Linked DNA regions of Homo sapiens: regions 1, 3 and 4 are each linked to region 2. The links come from fine-mapping of genetic effects on gene expression. A gene starts in region 2. Each other region holds a variant in brackets. All regions are shown on one strand. Distances are from middle to middle.

The links.
Region 1: its variant is fine-mapped to the expression of FLT1 in whole blood (TOPMed, PIP above 0.99).
Region 3: its variant is fine-mapped to the expression of FLT1 in whole blood (INTERVAL, PIP above 0.99).
Region 4: its variant is fine-mapped to the expression of FLT1 in whole blood (TOPMed, PIP above 0.99).

Annotation. Positions count from the first base shown.
Region 1 is chr13:28,463,403-28,468,555 of GRCh38, forward strand. It overlaps FLT1 (fms related receptor tyrosine kinase 1), which reads right to left. Exons shown (of 30, transcript NM_002019.4): 2 at 4,119-4,215; 3 at 3,501-3,727. Among named protein-coding and RNA genes, the nearest start is that of FLT1, 29 kb to the right of the region's middle. RefSeq lists a silencer at 3,865-4,096. The variant G/T (reference allele first, on the strand shown) is at 2,332.
Region 2 is chr13:28,492,240-28,497,392 of GRCh38, forward strand. It overlaps FLT1 (fms related receptor tyrosine kinase 1), which reads right to left and starts at 2,889. Exons shown (of 30, transcript NM_002019.4): 1 at 2,541-2,889. The coding sequence starts at 2,604. RefSeq lists silencers at 2,375-2,424, 2,505-2,624, 2,745-2,794.
Region 3 is chr13:28,601,380-28,606,532 of GRCh38, forward strand. No RefSeq gene overlaps it. Among named protein-coding and RNA genes, the nearest start is that of POMP, 55 kb to the right of the region's middle. The variant A/G (reference allele first, on the strand shown) is at 2,185.
Region 4 is chr13:28,589,288-28,594,440 of GRCh38, forward strand. No RefSeq gene overlaps it. Among named protein-coding and RNA genes, the nearest start is that of POMP, 67 kb to the right of the region's middle. The variant C/T (reference allele first, on the strand shown) is at 3,155.

The sequences.
Region 1 (5,153 bases), 29 kb before region 2:
TTTTGTGACATGTAGACAGAGCTATACTCCTGATTCTTTTTCTTAAAACCCTATTAGACTACAAATCTACCTTTTCAAAAGATGTGTTTACATAGGGTTACTCATCCTTAGAGAAAAATAAAATGAAATCCCAATAATCTGCAGATGCTTATTGGGGCTGAAATCCCCCAAACATATTCTAAAGTAAATATTCAACAATAATAAATACATGATAACCAAGTTAATATCTAGCGAGTAATCACAGCTGTATATTAGGAAATGGTTGGAGTTTTATTAATGCCAGAGACAATGCTCTGAGTCATCAGAGATAAGTTTTGTGCTCCTGAACTAAAATAAACCTGTCATGGAAGTGTTCGGTAACAATGGAAGCAGAAGATCAAATTTTCTCAGAAAGAGAGTTAATAAAATAATGAGAGAGAGACATAAAATATTAGACTCCTCGGAAAAGTTATGATTGTTTAATGGATTATATCACAGCTACCTTGGACTTTAATAAGGTGTGATTATGAGACCAATATCACCCTAACAGGAAACAAATAACAAAATAGATGTTACTGTTCATAGTAGTACAGTTACAGGCTCATAGTAACTGTTTCCTAAATATTTGCTGATTAAATTAATTAGCAAACAAGATTCAGAAGGCTCTTCTATGGTTACCATTATTGATTCCAATATCTTTTAGTATCAGTGCTATTTAAAAATAGTGGTCTCATAATATTATCATAACAATTTTTCCACCAAGCTCATATAATATTCGTAGTATATGTATGTATGTATATGTGTGTATTCCATAATAATCTATGAAATACAACGCATTTCACAATCCTTCCTTATCCAAAAACAATCTAAGTGATAGATAATTTCCTAATGTCCAACAAATTATGCAAGTGTTTTATGATATTGGAACTTGTAATTTTCTGCGAATGGTTGTGGACTATTACAGGAAGGCAGACATGATAAATACATGACCTAACGGCCACTGCTCCCCGACAATCCCACAAGAGACATCAATAATCAATCATGGCACTTTTTCCCACTAAGCCTGGAATTTATCCTCAATGTCAATTTTAACATAGTATTCCACAAAGCACCTGTTAATCCATTCATTTATTCATTTAGCAATTATTATGGATTTCCTAATATGTGCAAGGCACTGTACCAGGGAGGCACATTGCAGATAAAAGTAACCAGGACAGACATGGACCGTGCCATCACAGGGCTTAGATTAACAATGGATTTGACACTCAAAGTCATGATTGTTTGCCAGATCTGCTCTGTTGTATAGTTGAAATGGAACTAATTCTAAATAGCAGTGTCTCTCCTTTGTGATAGTAGGGGACTGAGTGGAGAGGCTTGCACTCCCTGGCTTCATAAAGCCATGATGTCTATTGAATAGTTTAGGAGTTAAAGGTGAAAATAGCTGAACACTATTTATTAGAAAAAAAGAGATGGTTTTCTTTTTATTCATTTAAGTGTTCAATTTGCAAGTCAGACTGATAAACCTATAGGAGAAAGTTTTATGAAAATATTAGAATGAATAAATTTTTCTCCCACTCCCCTATAGAGACAGGGGCAGTCTGTGACTCACTGCAGTGTTTTCCTTTCTCCACAGATGTCGGAAAGAACACAATATGCTACGTGGAATTAGAGAAAGAGAACAGATGGCTGAGTACATGGCTTTTTCCACCACTATCAAGCGTGTTGTCTTTCCCCCTCAGCTGCAAAATTACCTCTCTGAAAGTCTCTGCTCTTAATGCTGCACCTTCTCTACCCTTCCTCATTCCTGCCTACCATCCTTTCATCCCTGCTTTAGAAGTGGGCTGACTTCCCCAAGCAAAATTCCCCGGCCTACCTCCCACTCATATGTGGAAGTGAGCTGATTGCATCCCTTGACGGCAAACTGCTTGGATGGTTAGTCCCTTACAGTTATCTACCCCCTGGACAAGCACAAAATGTCAAAACAGAATTTGGAGGATCGGGGACATGAAAGTGGCTCAGTCAAAATCAGGCTGATAGCAGCTACAAAGAGGTTACTGTCAATAACAGGCAACTGTTCTGCTGTCTCCTAAGACTAATCCTGAATTTGGATATGTACATGTTATGCTCAGGGAAAAACACTGTCTAGTTGCCTTATTTCACAAATTAAAAAAAATCTCATGGCCAGGCACGGTAGCTCATGCCTGTAATCCCAACACTTTGGGAGGCCGAGGCAGGTGGATCACCTGAGGTCAGGAGTTCGAGACCAGCCTGACCAACATGGTGAAACCCAGTCTCTACTAAAAATACAAAAATTAGCCAGGAGTGGTGGCAGACGCCTGTAATCCTAGCTAC[G/T]CAGGAGGCTGAGGCAGGAGTAATCGCTTGCCCCTGGGAGGCAGAAGTTGCAGTGAGCTGCCATTGCACTCCAGCATGGGTGAGAGATCAAGACTCCATCTCAAAAAAACAAACAAACAACAACGAAAAAGAACTGCCTCACTAAAATGTTAGTTCTATTGTACTACCTCCAATGCAAAGACCCAGTTCCTGACCTCACCAGAAGGTAGACCCACAATGTATATTTAGCTATTGATGCTGATGGTTGGTTGTTTTCTTTTGTTTTTTTTAAACCTGATTCTGTGCCTGAAGTGCCTACTAATATTGCTTTGTGTTCTCTACAGCCTTGTTTGTGTGTGTGCGTTTTTTTCTTTAATCCCCTCAAGATTTGAAAATTGGAACTAAACAAGGAAGAAGAAAGTGACAGGCCATTTTTATTATTCTTTCTCAGGGTTCCAATTTTACTGTGAGTTTCTACTTCTTAAAAGATTTTGCATTTCTCCCCTTTGAATGTTACTTCATTTGTTCATTCTCTAAGGAAGGAAGAACAGTATCATAAAAATTATGAATGAATGAAAATGATTTTTTTACGAGTACCATAAAAAATGAATCAAACATGATTCATTTTTGCCCTTTGCCCTTTGCACTGTATCTTGGTCAGTGCCAGTTCTCATGTCATTATAGTAGTTCCTCAGTGAACATGAAATAATACAACATTGTCCATTGGAACCAGTTATATAACACTCGAGATAACAGCAACATTGCGTTTATTAATTTAGTAGAAACAACAGTATTTTACAGTTCCAACATATAAGAGAATGCAGCTGTGTTAAATGACAAAAATCATGTATTCTATTTTGGGCTTCTCAATAACTAAGAAATAGAACTAAAATCCTTTTATTCACTTATTCATCCAACTATGGGCCACATACTGTGCTAGGAGCTGTGGGTACAGAGGTGACCTATACAGACCAGTCTCTCTCTTTGTGGAGCACATAGTGACTAACTGGGCCTTGACAATTCTGGTTAAAATTGACATCCACGAAAGTGTCTACAACTAGGATGGAATCTCTTTCCTAACCCGTTTCTTTCATACTCACTAGGAAAGCAACCTTTCCAATGGATCAGGGTAGATTTATGACTCATTTGCAAAGCAAAAGCAAACAGAATGTAGAAAATGGAAGTCTTACCACTAATAAATATATAGATTGCAGATTCTGTTTCCTTCTTCTTTGAAGTAGGTACAGCTAGATATTTGCAGCTGTAGAAGCCAGTGTGGTTTGCTTGAGCTGTGTTCAAGGTTAAAGTACTGCAGAATTGTTTGCCATTTCTTCCACAGGCAGATTTAGTTATGCTCAGCCTTTCGCTTTCCTTACTCACCATTTCAGGCAAAGACCATTTATGGGCTGCTTCCCCCCTGCAATCACAGATAAGAAAACAAAACATATTTATGGCTGGGCCCTAGGCTCAGCACCAGTTCCTCAGCATTCATTTTATTAGGAAGCGGAGGTCCTCTCTTAAGTGTAGTCATCTTCCTCTTTACGGGAAAGCAACACATTCAGAAAAGCTGTAGAACAATACTCAGAATAAAGATGCAGAACTATTTGGGCATCCCTTCCCCCATTTCCCTGAGTGAGTAATGCTCTCCCTTCCCCATGAATCCCCTTTCATGGGAAGCTGGATGCCTATGGTTTGCACTTTGCAGATCACAGGAGATCACTGAGGTCCCTACCTTTTTACTCTGCCAGGGAATGATTTTGCCTTAGGCATGGCAACTAGATTATTCCCAAACCAACACAGCCACTTACCTGCATTGGAGATGCAGTGTCTGGCCTGCTTGCATGATGTGCTGGGTGCCTTTTAAACTCAGTTCAGGATCTTTTAATTTTGAACCTGAACTAGATCCTGAAAAACAAATTTTTAAAATGTATTATTTGTAAATTGTCTTCTTACCTTTTTTTAAGTTATCTTTCCATGAAGGTGAGTTTTTCATTTTTAATTTATTTACATCTTTAATTTACTTGTATCTTTAATTTATAAGCAAAAGATACACTAATACAAATTTCTCTTAATTCACAAATTTTTTCTAGCTCTACCCTTGCTCATAAATATTATATATCCTTTTATACCAAATGACCTAAATAACATCCAAAAGCCTATTTATGTAGAATGGTAATGGATTCATATAGGTTCAATGAAATTATATTAAAATATATAACTAGTTATAATATTCAAATATGCAATAACTTAGTAAAAACTCTCAAGAATAAATGTCAGTGTCATCCAAAATATATTTTCAATACTGAACTTTTTCCAGTGTGGGTCATCTAGTCCTATAGGCCTGTCTCATCTTTTTTTCTGAATAAAAAGTACAGAAATTTTCCTGGGCTCTGAATTTCATGCAATCATTAGTTGAGCAATGATATTTTTGGCCAATCATTTCCCTTTCTGAACCAGTTTCCTCATTTGGAAAACTAATTATAGAATCAAAATCAGTTTTAGAAGACATTTGGTTTGTCTTACGTAATCTATGAGTTCCCTCTACAATGGTACAGTCAAAAGGGAACTGTTCACACGCTTACGTGACATTCGACAAACATCTCGGAGGATTGTTGTGAGGCAATAAAGTGAGGTGGTGAAAGTGCTTTAAAATCTACACATCTCCATATGATGCAATAATGACATCCATTTTAGTGACTAGCTGTATCACCCTAGACAAGTCATCTCTCTTTCCAGATCTCAGTTATCTTATCTGTAAAAAAGAGATTGGACTAGACGACCTTGAAATCTCTGACCTTCCATTTCTCACAGTCCCAGCCTGATATAGCTTGGATGCTGACCCT
Region 2 (5,153 bases):
ATTTCAGTATTTCCACTTAGTTATAGTAAATTGTAAATGTTAGCTGTTCAAGAACTCAAGAAAAATGAGGGCAAAGAAAAAGGTCTGTAGCTTTCATCCAGGTTGTGATACCTTAAAAGTAAGAAATGAGACTCAGAGCTGGAGAAAGAGGACTGGTATCCTTTATAGAGAAAGAGCAATAGAGAGGACTTGAAAGTATCTGAATTATTGGCATCTTTTTATTTCCCAGAATGTCTGGAAGAGGTAAATAAGCGCTTTAGAGGGGAAAGGCATTATCTTTTTGTAATACTGAGCCTCTGGTTATTTTACCTCTCAATGCATGTGCACACCAGGCATGCACACACACAGAATATTAATAGCTGATAAGTATTCAAAGATTACATAGTACCTGAAGGAAGGCAGACCCAGGTTCATAATGACGCAAGAGAACTCTGCAGTGGGGAACCGTGGCTTCTTACTAGACATTGCTTCCCGGATATGCAGCCTCTCAGTTGAGCATGAAAGCCCTGATGCGGTTTGTAAAGTAGGCGGTAGCTGATTGTTTTACTGTGAGATGCTTGTTAACCAGACAGAGAAACTATGAGTTTTCAAAAGCACCCATGATGCCGACTGAGCTAACATGAACTAACAGAGTGTTCTGTTAACTGTTAGGTAAAGAGGTTCTCAGCTTGCCAATGTTAGTCCTTTCTTCCCAAAAAAGTGCAAATAAAAAAAAAAAAGAAATTCAGAGTTGCAAAACTGCTGCCCCATTTAAGTAAATTATAATCTAAGAAAAATCACAAGAGGATCCCACTCACATTTCTGTAAAGTTTCCACTGATCTAAGATGCTTCCAATTACAAAGAAAACGATGCTTCACTAAAGTCAGCATGTTTTCAAAATAAAGATATAATTATGTGAAGCAGAAAATCTAATAAATCACGTACTTTTCCCTCCGTAATTTTAGATTCATGTAATTTAGCTAGATTTATCTTTACATAATAGTCGAGTGAGGTATTTAAATTCTCTAAGCAATTATATTTTAATACAAGTGACTTTTCAAAACAAAAAATGTATTTGTGAAATAGAAAATACAACATTTTATTTAATATAGTTATGTTAGCACCTTTCCCAACCTACAGTGAGTTCTCAGAAGTTACCACTTCGCCCTGTCTCCGGGTTTAGTAGTTTCTCCAATCTAATTGGAACTATTACTTGTTACTTGGAAACTGACGGTCTAGTTAGTCTTCCCACTGAGAAAGAATATTTAATTATTACTGCTTTTTGGGTTTAACAAGCTTTTTGTTGTTGTTGTTGTTGTACTACGCTCCATCCTATTGACTTTTCTTCCCGGGAATCATTGCAATGACTTATTTTATATTACTATATTTTATTTCATATTTTACCTTTTCTCCACGATGCTTAAAAGAAAGGCGCTCCGAAATCTGGCTCTCTGCGCCCAGGGGAACGAGGCACAAATCTCCGCCACTCAGCCCCACTGAGCAGAGACTGCGAGTCCGAACCCTCAAGTTCCTCGGGGCTTTGACCCCTCAATGGCGGCGGTCTAACTGCTGGTAAAACCCCCGGCCCCTGACTGTTCCACCGCCCGTCTCCCAAACGCCCAGCGAAGGCTGACTTAGGTGGCGGGCGGACCTCATCGATTCCTCAAACCACATCGTTTGGTCAAAATCGCCCGCCCTCTCTTCGCTCGGATTTTAAAGGCTAGGCTTGTAAGTCAGTAAGTTAACGGTATTTGGGCCCTGGGCTGCCCTTGTGGGTCAGGGTCACTGATGTCCGCGACACGGACTGGACCGCGCACCACGCCTGCTCCCGGCAGAGGCCCCACCCGGGTGGCTGAGCGCAGCGCACTGGGGCCCCGCGGTCCGAGAGCGGCGGGGAGGAGCGGGCGCTCGCCGAGCGTTCCCCGGGACAGTCCGGCTTGGGGACTCAAGCGGGTCATGGGATGCCGGCGCTGGCCCTCTCCTGAGATCCTCCTGCTCCCCCGCAGGCACGAGTCCCCTCCAAATCGGCTCCCCTCCTACACTCTCGTGACGCGAGGTCGCGGCCAGTGCCCAATATCACCAAAGTCCCGGCCTCAGCCCAGCCCCGGGCAGCCTGGCAGGCTTTCAGGAGCCTCTGCTCCCGGCTCCGGGGGACCCTGCGTACCTGCCCCAGGTCCTCTGGGAATGGGCTCTGGGTGCCAGGCAGGTCCCGGTGCGTGCTGCTCCTAGTGCCCAGGGCCTCGGCAGTGAGACCCCAACCCGACAGCTGGATAAGGGATCAGCGATCCTGTCGCAAACGGACAGCCCCAGCGCGGACCCGGTCTGAGCGCTGATGCTCGCGGGTCCAGGCCAGCCACTCCTCGAGGCGCTCCCTCGGAGAAAGGGCGCAGCGGCCCCAAGCGTGCCCGCTGCAACTAGTGTCCCAGGTTCTCGCCGTAGCCAGCTTCTCCGGGCTACAGCCTCGTCTCCCCGCGTGCACCCCGCCCTGGCCTCGGAGGCTCTGCCCTCCGGCCGCCCCATCGCAGCCCGCCTCAGGCCCCGGCCCCCAGCCGCGCCTCACCTGTGAGAAGCAGACAGCTGAGCAGCGCGCACAGCAGGACCCCGGTGTCCCAGTAGCTGACCATGGTGAGCGCGACGCGGCCTGCTCGCCCGGTGCCCGCGCTCCCCGCGGCCAACGACCCGGCCGCCAGAGTCCGTCCTCTCGTTCGCCGCCGCCGGCCCCGCGCCCTGAGCGCCCGTCTCGCGGCTCCAGCCAGGAGACAACCACTTCCCCGGGTAATCCTCGCCGCCAGGCGCCCGCTGGCCGCTGCACCCGAGCCCCGGAGCCCGCTCCGAGCCGCCGCCGCTGCCGGGGAGGAGCCGAGAGGAGTGTCCGCCTGGCGCGCTCCGAGCCTCCCGCGGACCTCGATGAAGAGCAGCCGAGGGCGGGGGCGATTTATAACCTTTCCCCAGCCCACTTCCTACCCCGGCACCTCCTTCTGGTGACGTCAAGGGGTCCCCCACCCCTCATCCGCCTCCCCACCTACCCTCTTCTTCCTCCCAGGCTCGCTTCCCTGCGGCTACGGAGAGGGGCGGGGGCCGACGAGGGCGGGTGGCCCGGGGCCGAGCGCGCGTGGGGAGGTGCTGGCGACGCGGGCCCGGGAGCGCGGCCCCGGCAGGTTCAGGGTCTTTGCTCCGCGCCCTCTTGCCCTTGCCCCTCCTCCTGCCCATCGCGCTCAGGAAATCCTTGCAGACTCCCTCCACCCGGCTTACTCAGCTCTGGGGGCCGCCCGAAACTGGGGAAGGGACAAGGCTGAAGCTCCGCCGCCTGGCCCTAGGGGCGGAAAGTCCGATCCAAGGGAAGCTGGCCGCGCCTCCGCGACGGTGTTCTTGGCACGGAGGACTGAGGCGCAGTCCGGCTGTCTCCCCTTGCCTGCTCTTCCCGCGCTGTCCCGCCGCTCCTGACCCCTTCAGACTGTCCCGAGAAGTCTAGGAAGGCACCGGAGACCCTCGGCACAAGGCACTGAACCTGGAGCGCCTGAGGGGAACTGACGCTTGCTTGGCACCTTTGGGAAGACTGCGAACCAGCTCAGGTCCCAGGGGAGCGTGTCCGTGTCTTTTTCGGCCGCATTGATGCACCCGCCCAAGTCATTTCCTCAGTCTTCTGCTTCCTAGAAGCAAAACAAGGAATAACATTATGATACCTTTAAAAAGCTGAGGCGTGAAACTGCTCCTGCAACTTGGAAGCGCAGGGCACTTGAACTTTATTCCCTAAATGCTCGAAAAAGAAATCTTTCTGGTGGCAGCTTGCTACTCAAGATGAGTGACTCTGACCACAACCGGCTGAAATTAACTTGAGGCCCTAGATCATTTGCTATGACACTAATTCCACGTTGTTCCTCAATTATGTCTCCATTACCTCAAAGGCTGAAGTCGTCCTGGCTGCACGGAGCAGCCCAGTCTTGTCTCTGTAAATACCGCAGATTTGAAAAATAGTCCTATTGGAACCCGTCAGAGGGATGTAATACAAGGGACTGTGATGGCTCTTGAACGGAGCCAGAGACTCTTCCTGAAGGACTGGACTACCTCCCCGCCTAGGAAGGTTGGGTAACCCAAAGTTGCCACATTTCTGGGCTGCACACCAAGGAGAGGCCCCGGCCACTCCACACAGGAAATGCACGTCTGGGCACCTGGAGCCGCAGGACCTGAGCCACTAACTGTCCCTGGATCCCTTCTGCTTCAGAGGCAAGGAAGACTGCCGGAGTCATTGCTTGCCTGCTGGCTTCACCAGCGCTTTCTGTTTTTCCAGTTCTCCTCACCACTCTTCCTGGCGCCTTTCTCTGCCTCCCGCACCCCTGCCTCCTCTAAAACCCACAGCATCATCCCTCAGAACAGCTGGAAGCGGACAGCTGATCCTTCTCCTTGCTGGTCCCCCAGCCCAGAACACAGCCTGGGACATACGTGCGGAGCCACAGTGTCTGTTGGTCTCACCTGAGAGCTGCTTGTCACTCCCACACCCTCTTTCAAGGAGAAGCTGTCAGCATTGTCCTTCTGCAGCATTCAACAGGGGCCAGGCATTGGGTTAGGGCTGAAAACACTGATGGAGAGCCATCATCTTTGCCTTCTAAAGGGCTTGGACTGTGATAAGAAGGTGGACACTTGAAGTGGCTGCAGGACCGGCATTCCAGTGCTGGAGGGGTGTTTAGTCCTCCATCAGCTCAGAGAAGTAAAGGCACATTTATTGGCAGGGAAAACCCAAGGAGGGCTTCTCAGGAGAGACACACATTTGACTCTGGGGGAAAGTGGTCCATAGTACCATGTACAAAGGTTTAATTTGCTAATACATTTTTTCAAATGCCATTTTGATATTTTTAACTCATAAAGAGACAACACTTTCCAAACCTGCTGCCAGCAATGAATCTACATTGTGTCTGTAAAGCCAGAACAGGTATTTGATGGACAGCTGAAACAATCTTTATAATCTAAGATGCTAATCAATGATATTAACATGTTGCTCAATTATTTAAGGTTAGTAGAGTCACAGTCGAATCTAAGATTTATATTAAAACTATGCTGCAGTAAGGGTGGGCTTCCACATTTCCCAACTACTCTTTTGAAAAGTTGCTTTTAATTAGAGTCAGCAATTTATTGACTATGACTTCTTTGTTAGTTGCATTAGCGTTCTCACAAAGAA
Region 3 (5,153 bases), 110 kb after region 2:
ATGTAGAGAAAGCTCTGAGGCTCTTTATTCTAAGCAAGTGTGGTGAACAGTAACACCTGTCACTTGGGCTTAGGGAGGCATCAAGAAACAGAAAATCAGACAGACATGATTTGCATAATGGTTCCAGAATTTAGGGTTTGATTTTGGGCAAGCTACTTAACCTCTCTGAGTCTCATCTAGAAAATAAGGACGAAGCTATGTTCCTCACTGGCTTCAGGTAAGAATCCCTAAAGTGCTGTGTTTAAATCGGGGCCCATGATAAATGGTCTTAGTATCTGTTGGGCTCACTCCACTTTCCCTTCTTTCCCTTTAGTCACCATATGCATTGTGGGAGCTAAAGGCAGCACTTCAGTTCTGATGCTTTGTGTGACCACAGGCCAGAACCCAAGAAAAAACAGAACATGATTATTGGTGGCTATAATCAAGAATGAAAGGATCCCTTATTCTAGAAGTTTGCAGTGTCAGATGGAGCTCACTGATTCAGACTGACAGCTACAACTGGGCAAACCAGCCCGAGACAAACAACAAATGTATTAATTAGTAAATGTAATGAATAAAGAAATGGTGCAAGAGTTTTTGGTGTGGTTGTGTGACGAATGACCCGTGCATGGCAGGTCCAGACAGGATGGGTTTTGGGGGTGGGGGGAGGAGAGAACCATCATCCTGGTCCAGTTTACTGGGAAAGGCTCTGTGAGAGAAGCGTGATTTTAGAATTATTTGAATATTGGTAGGAGGGGGCTTCTGGAGTGAAGCGGGTGTTCCAGGTAGAGGGTGTGGCCTGAGACACATTTCAAGGGACAGTCAGAGTAGAAGGAAGCAAACGCCCATCCACACATGATATTATTCAAAATCACTAGTGAAGGAGCAAATCACAGATGGGGTCTGTGATTTTCTGAAAAGTTGGCAAATTGAGTCTTTCAGAAATGCACAAATATGTTTCCTCTAACATGGGTATCAGTTCAGTTTAGGGCCCAGACTTAGAGTGAGGTGCAGGGGGCTTGGAGCCCTTCTGAAGGGGACCAGCAGTTGAGGCCTCCATGAGGAAAAGATAAAAGGATGGGGCTAGTTTACTGGGGACGGCACATGGTGTAGGAGAGACCTGGTGCCTTCTCATTTTCTTAATGATGGCTCTGGAAAACATGTAGTTGCTGCTTCTACTCCTGTGAATGGCAGAGTGGTAGAAAGGACTTCAGCTTCAGCAGAAGAATATAGAAGAGACAAGGAAAAATCAGTGTCTCATATGACATGCAACAAAAGCACAGTTTAATCAGAGGCCCACAAAATTACAATCCTAGGAGTTCTTTCCAGACAGGAGAAACCCGCTCTGTCTTCATGCCTCATTTGTTCATAATTCCTCAGTTTATGACATTCAATAAATGGACATTTACAAGATCCAAAGTCATAATACAGACTATAACCTTAGCATACTCAACACCCAAGGATTTGCCATGATATATTGTTCAGGTCCCATCAAGCTTAAAGTTTCAGGAAACCAGCTCCCTCCTCCTGGAATTTTCTACTGGATTTCCCATAGACTCTGCTGCAGTTCTGCTCTCTGTTCCGCTCAGACAGATCTTTGCCTTTCTGCAAACCAGCAATTGCCTTCCAAGGGGGCTCACACAAACTGCAACTGAGCTGCTGGAGAGATATTCCCCTGTCACAGAATGTGGAGGAGGGAGATTGGAGGTGGAGGGTTTCTGCAGCAGCTAGGAGCAAACATATTCACACTCATAATTTTTGGGGGTCAATTCTTAAAATAGATTATATAGATGTTATGGCAGAGACTGCTCTGTGTTCACCAAATCCTGTCTCTTCTTCCTCCCAGCATACAGTGAGTCGACATTTTTCAGTTTATCTTGCAGCCAGTTGGAGCTGTATGATGAATCCTGGGGAATTAGGAACGATGTGTGCTGCTTCCAAGCCTGGCCCTTAAAAAAACTCCTGCAAGATCCTCCATGTTCTCTCTCTTTCTTTCTTTGACTACTGGCCAGATCCAGAAGATCTAGTGAAGGACAATAAGCCCTTGGGGACAGCAGACCCGACCATCTGGGTCTGGTCAGCAGCTAAGGGAAAAAAGAGGACTATAAAGCCCTAGGCAACAGAAGAGCCTCTTGCTGGAAGGAGACTGAGTCCTGAGTACGTGCATGGAACATCCCTTCCCCCACCGATTCACATGGGACTACG[A/G]TAAGAGAAAAATAAACTTTGATTGTGTTGGGCCACTGAGATGTAGGAGGCTGTTTGTTACAGTACTTGGTCTACCCTGGCTAATGCACATGGAGATTAGAGAGTGCCTCTGGTCTGGGCTCTATACACCAGTCTGTGTTAAAATGGGTGCCTCAGGGGAAGGCCTGGCCAAGCAGCCTGAGCTATGAGGCCAGAAATGATTAATGGAAATAAATAGATGTTTAAAGAAATTAGGGGTAGCATCAGGTGAAAAAGTAAGGTAATACCTCAAAATCTATTCCATGCCAAGAGAATTCAATTTGTAAATAATATTATTTTCAACAAATGGTGCTAGGGCAACTGAATATCCACATGCAAAAGAATAAAGTTGGATCTTTCCCTTACACTGTACACAAAAGTTCCCCCAAATATATCACAGACCTAAATTTAAGGGCTAAAGCTACAAAACTCCTAGAAGAAAACAGGAGTAAGTCTTTGTGGACTTGGGTTAGGCAAAGCCTTCTTAGATATATAATGCCAAAAGCACAACAACAACAAAAATAAATTGGACTTCCATCAAAATTAAAAACCTTTGTGATTCAAAGGACACAATCAAGAAAGTGAAGACAAGCCACACAGTGGGAGAGAATAATTACAAATCATATATTTCATAAGCAACTTGAATCCAGAAGTGTTACAACTCAACAATAAAAAAGACAACTCGATTTAAAAATGAGCAAATAATTGGAATGAAAATTTCTCCGAAGAAGATATACAAATGGCCAATAAGCCCACGAAAAGATGCTCAACATTACTAGTCACTAAGAAAATACAAATAAAAGTCACAGTGAGATACCATCTCACACCCACTAGGATGCCTAAAATAAAGAAATCAGATAGCAAGTATTGGTGAGGGTGTAGAGAGATTGGAACTCTTGTACATTGCTGGTGGAAATGTAAAATGGTGCAGCCTCTTTGGAAAATATTTTGCAGTTCCTCAAATAGTAAACACAGAGTTAGCATATTACCCCCACAATTTCACTCCTCGGTAGGTGAATACTCAACATAAATGAAAACTTATGCCCACATAAAATCTTGTACACGAATACTCATAGCAGCATTTATTTATAATAGTCAAAAAGTGGAAACAATCCAAATATCCATCAACTGATGAAAGGATAAAAAAAGGTAGTATATCCAACCAAGGGAATATTATGCAGCAATAAGAAGGAATGAAGTATGTACTGACAAATGCTGCAACATGGATGAACCTTGAAAACATTATATTATGTCTAAGAAGTGGGTCAGAAAAAGCCATCTATTGTATGGTGCCATTTACATTAAATGTCCAGATAGACAAATCTCTGGAGACCAAAAGAAGACTAGTGGTTGCCTCATTCTTGGAGGGGAGAGGAGAGGGAAGACTAAGGGGAAATGGAGAGTGATGGCTAATGTGCACAGGGTTTCTTTTTTTTTTTTAATTATACTTTAAGTTTTAGGGTACATGTGCACAACATGCAGGTTTGTTACATATGTATACATGTGCCATGTTGGTTTGCTGCACCCATTAACTCTTCATTTAACATTAGGTATATCTCCTAACGCTATCCCTCCCCCACACCCCCACCACACAACAGGCCCTGGTGTGTGATGTTCCCCTTCCTGTGTCTGTGTGTTCTCATTGTTCAATTCCCACCTATGAGTGAGAACATGTGGTGTTTGGTTTTTTGTCCTTGCGATAGTTTGCTGAGAATGATGGTTTCCAGCTTCATCCATGTCCCTACAAAGGACATGAACTTATCATTTTTTATGGCTGCATAGTATTCCACGGTGCATATGTGACACATTCTCTTAATCCAATCTATCATTGTTGGACATTTGGGTTGGTTCCAAGTCTTTGTTATTGTGAATAGTGCCACAATAAACATACGTGTGCATGTGTCTTTATAGCAGCATGATTTATAATCCTTTGGGTATATATCCAGTAATGGGATGGCTGGGTCAAATGGTATTTCTATTTTTTTTTTTTTTTTGAGATGGAGTCTCGCTCTGTTGCCCAGGCTGCAGTGCAATGGCATGGTCTCGGCTCACTGCAACCTCCGCCTCCTGGGTTCAAGCAATTCTCCTGCCTCAGCCTCCTGAGTAGCTGGGATTACAGGCATGCACTACCACGCCTGGCAATTTTTGTATTTTTAGTAGAAACAGGGTTCCACCATGTTGGCCAGGCTGGTCTCAAACTCCTGACCTCAGGCGATCCGACTGCTTCAGCCTCCCAAAGTGCTGGGATTACAGGCGTGAGCAACTGCGCCCAGCCCCAGGGTTTCTTTTTAGGGTGTTGAGCACGTTCTAAAATTGATTGTGGTGTCAGCTGCACAACTTTGTGAATATACTAAAAATCATTGTACACTTTATATGAGTGAATTATATGGTCTGTGAATTATATATTAATAAAGCTGTTAACACTCTCTTCTGAATTATTTTCTATTTCATTACATAATGAAATATTTCCAACCACAGAATGTCATAATGCCCCAATACACAACAATTGTGCTGCAAATGAAGGGCCAATATTATGGTCCAGCACACATTGCTCAGGATAGCTGTCCTCAGAGGCCACCAAGCTGGACTGCCCACAGCACCCCAAGGCCCATGAAAACTTAAGTAAATCTATTCCTAAGAAACTTCTGAGGGTCTTTTGCAGTGATGTGCTAGTGAATGTTTAACAGCTGACTCTGGTGGGGGTGGAAAAACATGAGGCCACTAAGCATAGGGTTGAGGAAGAGATGGGTGGTAACATTCCACCTATAATATTTACACCATACAGATTTAACAGACATAAGTAACCTCAAAAGCATACCAAATAGTAAAACATGTAATAATTATGAGTTTTGAGCATTTATCACTTTTATTTTTAATATAATTTATTTAATTGTAAGTTTGTATAATTTTTAGTAACAGATGTGTTTATCAGCCGCTTGGTAAATTTCCTG
Region 4 (5,153 bases), 97 kb after region 2:
TTTTTTTTTTTTTGATGGAATCGCATTCTGTCGCCAGGCTGGAGTGCAGTGGCACGACCTTGGCTCACTGCAACCTCCGCCTCCCAGGTTCAAGCGATTCTCTTGCCTCAGCCTCCCGAGTAGCTGGGATCACAGGTGCTGGACCACGCCCAGCTAATTTTTTTTTTTTCTTTTTTTTTTTTTTTTTGAGACAAAGTCTCGCTCTGTAGCCCAGGCTGGAGTGCAGGGGCGCAATCTCGGCTCACTGCAAGCTCCGCCTCCCGGGTTCACGCCATTCTCCTGCCTCAGCCTCTGGAGTAGCTGGGACTACAGGCGCCCACCACCATGCCCGGCTAATTTCTTCTAGTAGAGACGGGGTTTCACCATGTTGGCCAGGCTGGTCTCAGTCTCTTGACCTCATGATCTGCCCGCCTCAGCCTCCCAAAGTGCTGGGATTACAGGCTTGAGCCACCCCGCCCGGCCTTATGAATATTTATTAAACTCCTCCATAAGCCACGTGCCACTCTAGGTGAAAGAGACAGAAGTGAATAAGGCAAACGTCTAGCTTTTATATCCCTTTTCATAGGGAACACAACAATAAATAAGCAAAACCAACAGAAATAAGAGGGTGATAGTTTCATGAAGAAAACACAATAAGTTACTGGGACAGAGATTGTAAGGAGGTCAGGGGGCAACATTACGTACAATGATGGATCTGATGGATCTGATGAAATGATATTTGAGTTGGGACCAGAGTGACGAAAAGGATTCCAGGCAGAAGGGAGAACAGGGGCCAAAGCCCTGGGGTGGGAACAGCACTGAAATACTTATGGAACAGAAATAAGTTCAGTGGGGCGAGAGTCTGTGTGTGAAGACAGCAAGAGAGTAAGAAATGAAGTCAGAGTTAGGCAGGCCCCAAATCACTTACACTCTTAGGTCAATGGAAGGCAATGGGAAGCCACTGGAGGACTTCATTAAAATTTGATAAAATGCATTCTTAAGGATCAAACATAAAATCTAAACTTTCGGTAATCATTTATGGTTAAAAGTTAACGTTAGGTATATAAATCTTCTTTAATAAAACAATTCTGTGGGACAGATCTGCTACCAAGGCTCAGAGAAGTTGAGTGGCCTGACCACAGTCACACAGCTGATAGGTAGCAGGATTGGGACTAGAGCCTGGGGCTCCTGCGCCCCAGGTCAGTTACTAGGCATGAATAGAAACACCGCACTGCAACACTGAATGTTAGCCGACATGGCAGCTAAAATGCACACATTAGCATTACCAAATGAGTGAGCCGATTGAGCAAGTGAGTTCTCCTACCACTACCTCCCCTTAGCATTGGCTTTGAAGACGGTAACCGGGAAAACTCAGACTGGGTCGCCCCATGTTATTGCGCCAGGACTGGAGACTCTGAGAAGCTGGTTGCAACATTTGGCGTCTTCGCTTCGGATGCTCTATAAGCCTTTTGAGAGATGAGCCTGAGTTTGTGGCGGCAGGCTCCCTTTTGAAAGAGCCACCCAATCTGGCCTCCCCAGACATCTTCCTGGAGGAGGATTGAGCATTATTCCAAAAAAGAAGGGTGGCCTCGAGCTGGCCCATCAGGCCCTAGCAATACCCAGCTCCTCATCAGGATGGGTGCAATGTTTGTTTTGGACTTTAAGCTTCTCTTTCACCCTTCGCTCTTTGTTTCCAAGGCAAGGCCAGTCAAGCTGAGCCCTCTCAGCAGAGCCTTTTCCAGCAGCTGCAGAAGCCGCCTCACAACAGCCACTGGCTGGTGCTTCTTCCTCTCTGTGTGGGATGTTGCCTCTTACTCCTCTCGCAGTCTACCTGGCTCTCCTTGGCTTGCGCAGCCGTGGGCTGGGGAAGCATAGGGTACCCTCAGTGGTCAGTTTTATCTCTGAGTCCCCAGAATGCTGCTCTTGATTAGCTGGACCTTTCCCAGTCTGGGCTTTGCAGCTTGCACTTATATTTTCTCTGGACAGTCCAACTGTTCTTTCACAGAGTCCTTCAAACACATGGCTCTTTGAGATTTGAGTTTGCTTCTTATTTTTTCTTTAGAGATGGGGTTTTGTACTGTCACCCAGGCTGGAGTGCAGTGGCAGGGTCATAGCTCGCTGCAGCCTCCAACTCATGGATTCAAGCAATCCTCCCATTTCAGCCTCCTGAGTAGCTGGGACTATAGGCAGGTGCCATCTCACCCAGCTAATTTAAAAACTTTTTTTTTTTTTTTTTTTTTTTTTGTAGAGATGAGATCTTGCTTTGTTGCCCAGGCTGGTCTCAAACTCCTGGCCTCAAGCAATCTCCTGCCTCAGCCTCCCAAAGTACTGGGATTACAGGTGTGAGCCACTGCAGCCGGCTTCCAGACTTCTTAAATAAGGAGGTAAGTTGTGAGGTACCTGGAGTAGTGAAATGTATCAAGACAGAAAGTAGAATGGGGGTTGTTAGGGGCTGAGGGGAAGGGGGAATGGGGAGTTTTTGTTTAATGGGTATAGAATTTCAGTTTTGCAAAGTGAAGAAAAGTTCTGGAGATCCATTGCACAATAAGGTGAATATACTTAATGAACACTACAGAATTGGAAACTTAAAAAATAGTTAAACCAACCTGGCTGACACAGTGAAACCCCGTCTCTACTAAAAATACAAAAAAAAAAAAAAATAGCCGGGCACAGTGGCTCATGCCCATAATCCCAGCTACTCGGGAGGCTGAGGTGGGAGAATCACTTGAACCCAGGAGGCAGAGGTCGCAATGAGCCGAGATGACACTACTGCACTCCAGCCTGGGTGACAGGGTGAGACCCTATCTCAAAAAAAAAAAAAAAAAAAAGGTTAAGATGGCCAGTTTTCTGTTATGTGTTTTTTAAAACCATGGTTTTGAAAAAAAGCAGATAAAGAGTGGACCTGATCTCCCCATAGTTTGCTGCCCTCTTGTCTGCCCGCCTGCCCGCTTGAACACATGGAGCTCTCCTTCCCTGTGTGTAAGACTGATCTTTGGTAATGAGATGCCTTGACCTGCCACTTGATGTCATGGGATAACTGAGAGCCCACTACCTTGAAGTCTCCGTGAAGACACAGTCCACCGCCTCAAAACACTCCACTGATGCCTCCAACCCCACTGACCTCAGCAACCCTTCCTGTCAAAGTCACAGATGACTTCCACTTTGCCAAATGCAA[C/T]GGCCATTTTCTGGTCTTCCTCTCAGCTTCTCTCTTGGACACAATTGACTTCCTTCTTGAAATATACTCTTGTTTTGGTTTCAGGACCACCTCGATGTCCTGGTTTCTGCCTAACTTAATAAACATTTGGATCCCTTCACTGGTTCCACCTCTTCTCAAATGACTAACTGTTGGTGTAGCCCAGGGCTCTGTCCTTGGCCTGCTTCTCTTTTCCCTCAGCATTTTCTCTCTAGAGCATCTCAACTATCCCTGAGACTTACAGATAAGTCAACAAGATAATTCCCAGATCTGTGCTTTCAGCCTGGATCTTCCTACTAAGTTTTAAATTATGCCTCCAACTGCCTTCTTGACCTCTCCACTTGGATGTCTGTATCAACCCATTATGAATTTTCAATTCATTGGGGGTATAAACATGAAGTCGGTTCATGTTTTTCCATAACTGCCCTGATTATGCTAGTCTCAATACTCAAGAATCTTGGGATACTTCAGTCCAATTCCACAATGTCCAGATTATTATTACTATTATTATTTTGAGACGGAGTCTCGCTTAGCTGCCCAGGCTGGAGTGCAGTGGTGTGATCTCGACTCACTGCAACCACCATCTCCCAGGTTCAAGCAATTCTCCTATCTCAGCTTCCCAAGTAGCTGGGATTACAGGCACCCGCCATCATGCCCAGCTAATTTTTGTATTTTAGTAGAGATGGGGTTTCACCATGTTGGCCAGGCTGGTCTTGAACTCCTGACCTCAGGTGATCTGCCCGCCTCAGCCTCCCAACATGTTAGGATTACAGGCGTGAGCCACTGCGCCCGGCCGATGTTGAGATTACTAAAGTAGTCTCATTCTAGATTTTAAAATCTCATTACTATTTATACTTAAATATTATCTCAATGGTCAATTCTTTGTCTAGGACATCAAATTGTTAAATAGGTCTAAAACACCTTGAAATAACAGAAAGCAAGGAATCGATAAAAAAAATCTTAGGCCCATGCCAAAAGAATCCAGGAGCCAGCATGAAGTCTCCTTCTGTCTAAAGATGGAAATGTTTGAACAATAAAAATAACAACTGCAGTGGATTAAACACATTAAAATCCTTAAATGTATAAGTTCACAATGAAACTTCAAAAAACTCTCTCATTTGTCCTCTTTTAAGGATGACTAGGCAACCAACACATTATTTTGAAAACTTGTAAATAAAAAGAAAAAATAAATGTTTCCAGCATAAAATGAGCCTCAGGACAACCCAGTAGTTAAAGAGGGAAATTTATCTTTACAGAAGTATTTCAGCTAATAAAGAAAGAAGGATTAAATTGGAATATCACATTTTTTGGAACCTCTGGTGAAATCATTGTTCTTGGCAATAATCACTAATAATGGCTAAAAAGACAACTGTAGAAAAAAGCATAAGGGAAAAGCTTCACAATATTGGATTTAGCAAGGATTTCCTCAGTATGATACCAAAAGAACAGTCAACAAAAGGAAAAATAGACAAATGGGACTTTTAATCAAAATTAAAATTGATTAATTTTAATCAAAATTAAAAGCTTCTGTGTATCAAAAGACACAATCGAAAGAGTGAAAAAATAACCCACAGAATGGTAGAACATATTTGCAATTCATATAAGGGGTTATAAGGGGTTAGGATCCAGAATATATAAAGAATTCCAACAACTCAACAAAAACAAAAACAAAAACTCAATTAAAAAAATGGGCAAAGGACTCAAACAGACATTTATCTAAATATGATATACAAATGGCCAACAAGCATATGAAAGATGCTCAGCGTCACCGTCACTAATCATTAGGGAAATGCAAATCAAAACCACAATAAAATATAACCTCACACCTGTGAGGATGGCTAATCAAAAAACAAAAAAAGTACGCAATTAAACAAAAATAAAACAAGGGTTGGAGCAGAGGCAGAGAAATTGGAACGCTTGCACATTGTTGGTGGAATTGTAAAATGGTGCAGCTGCTGTGGAAAACAGTTTGAAGTTTCCT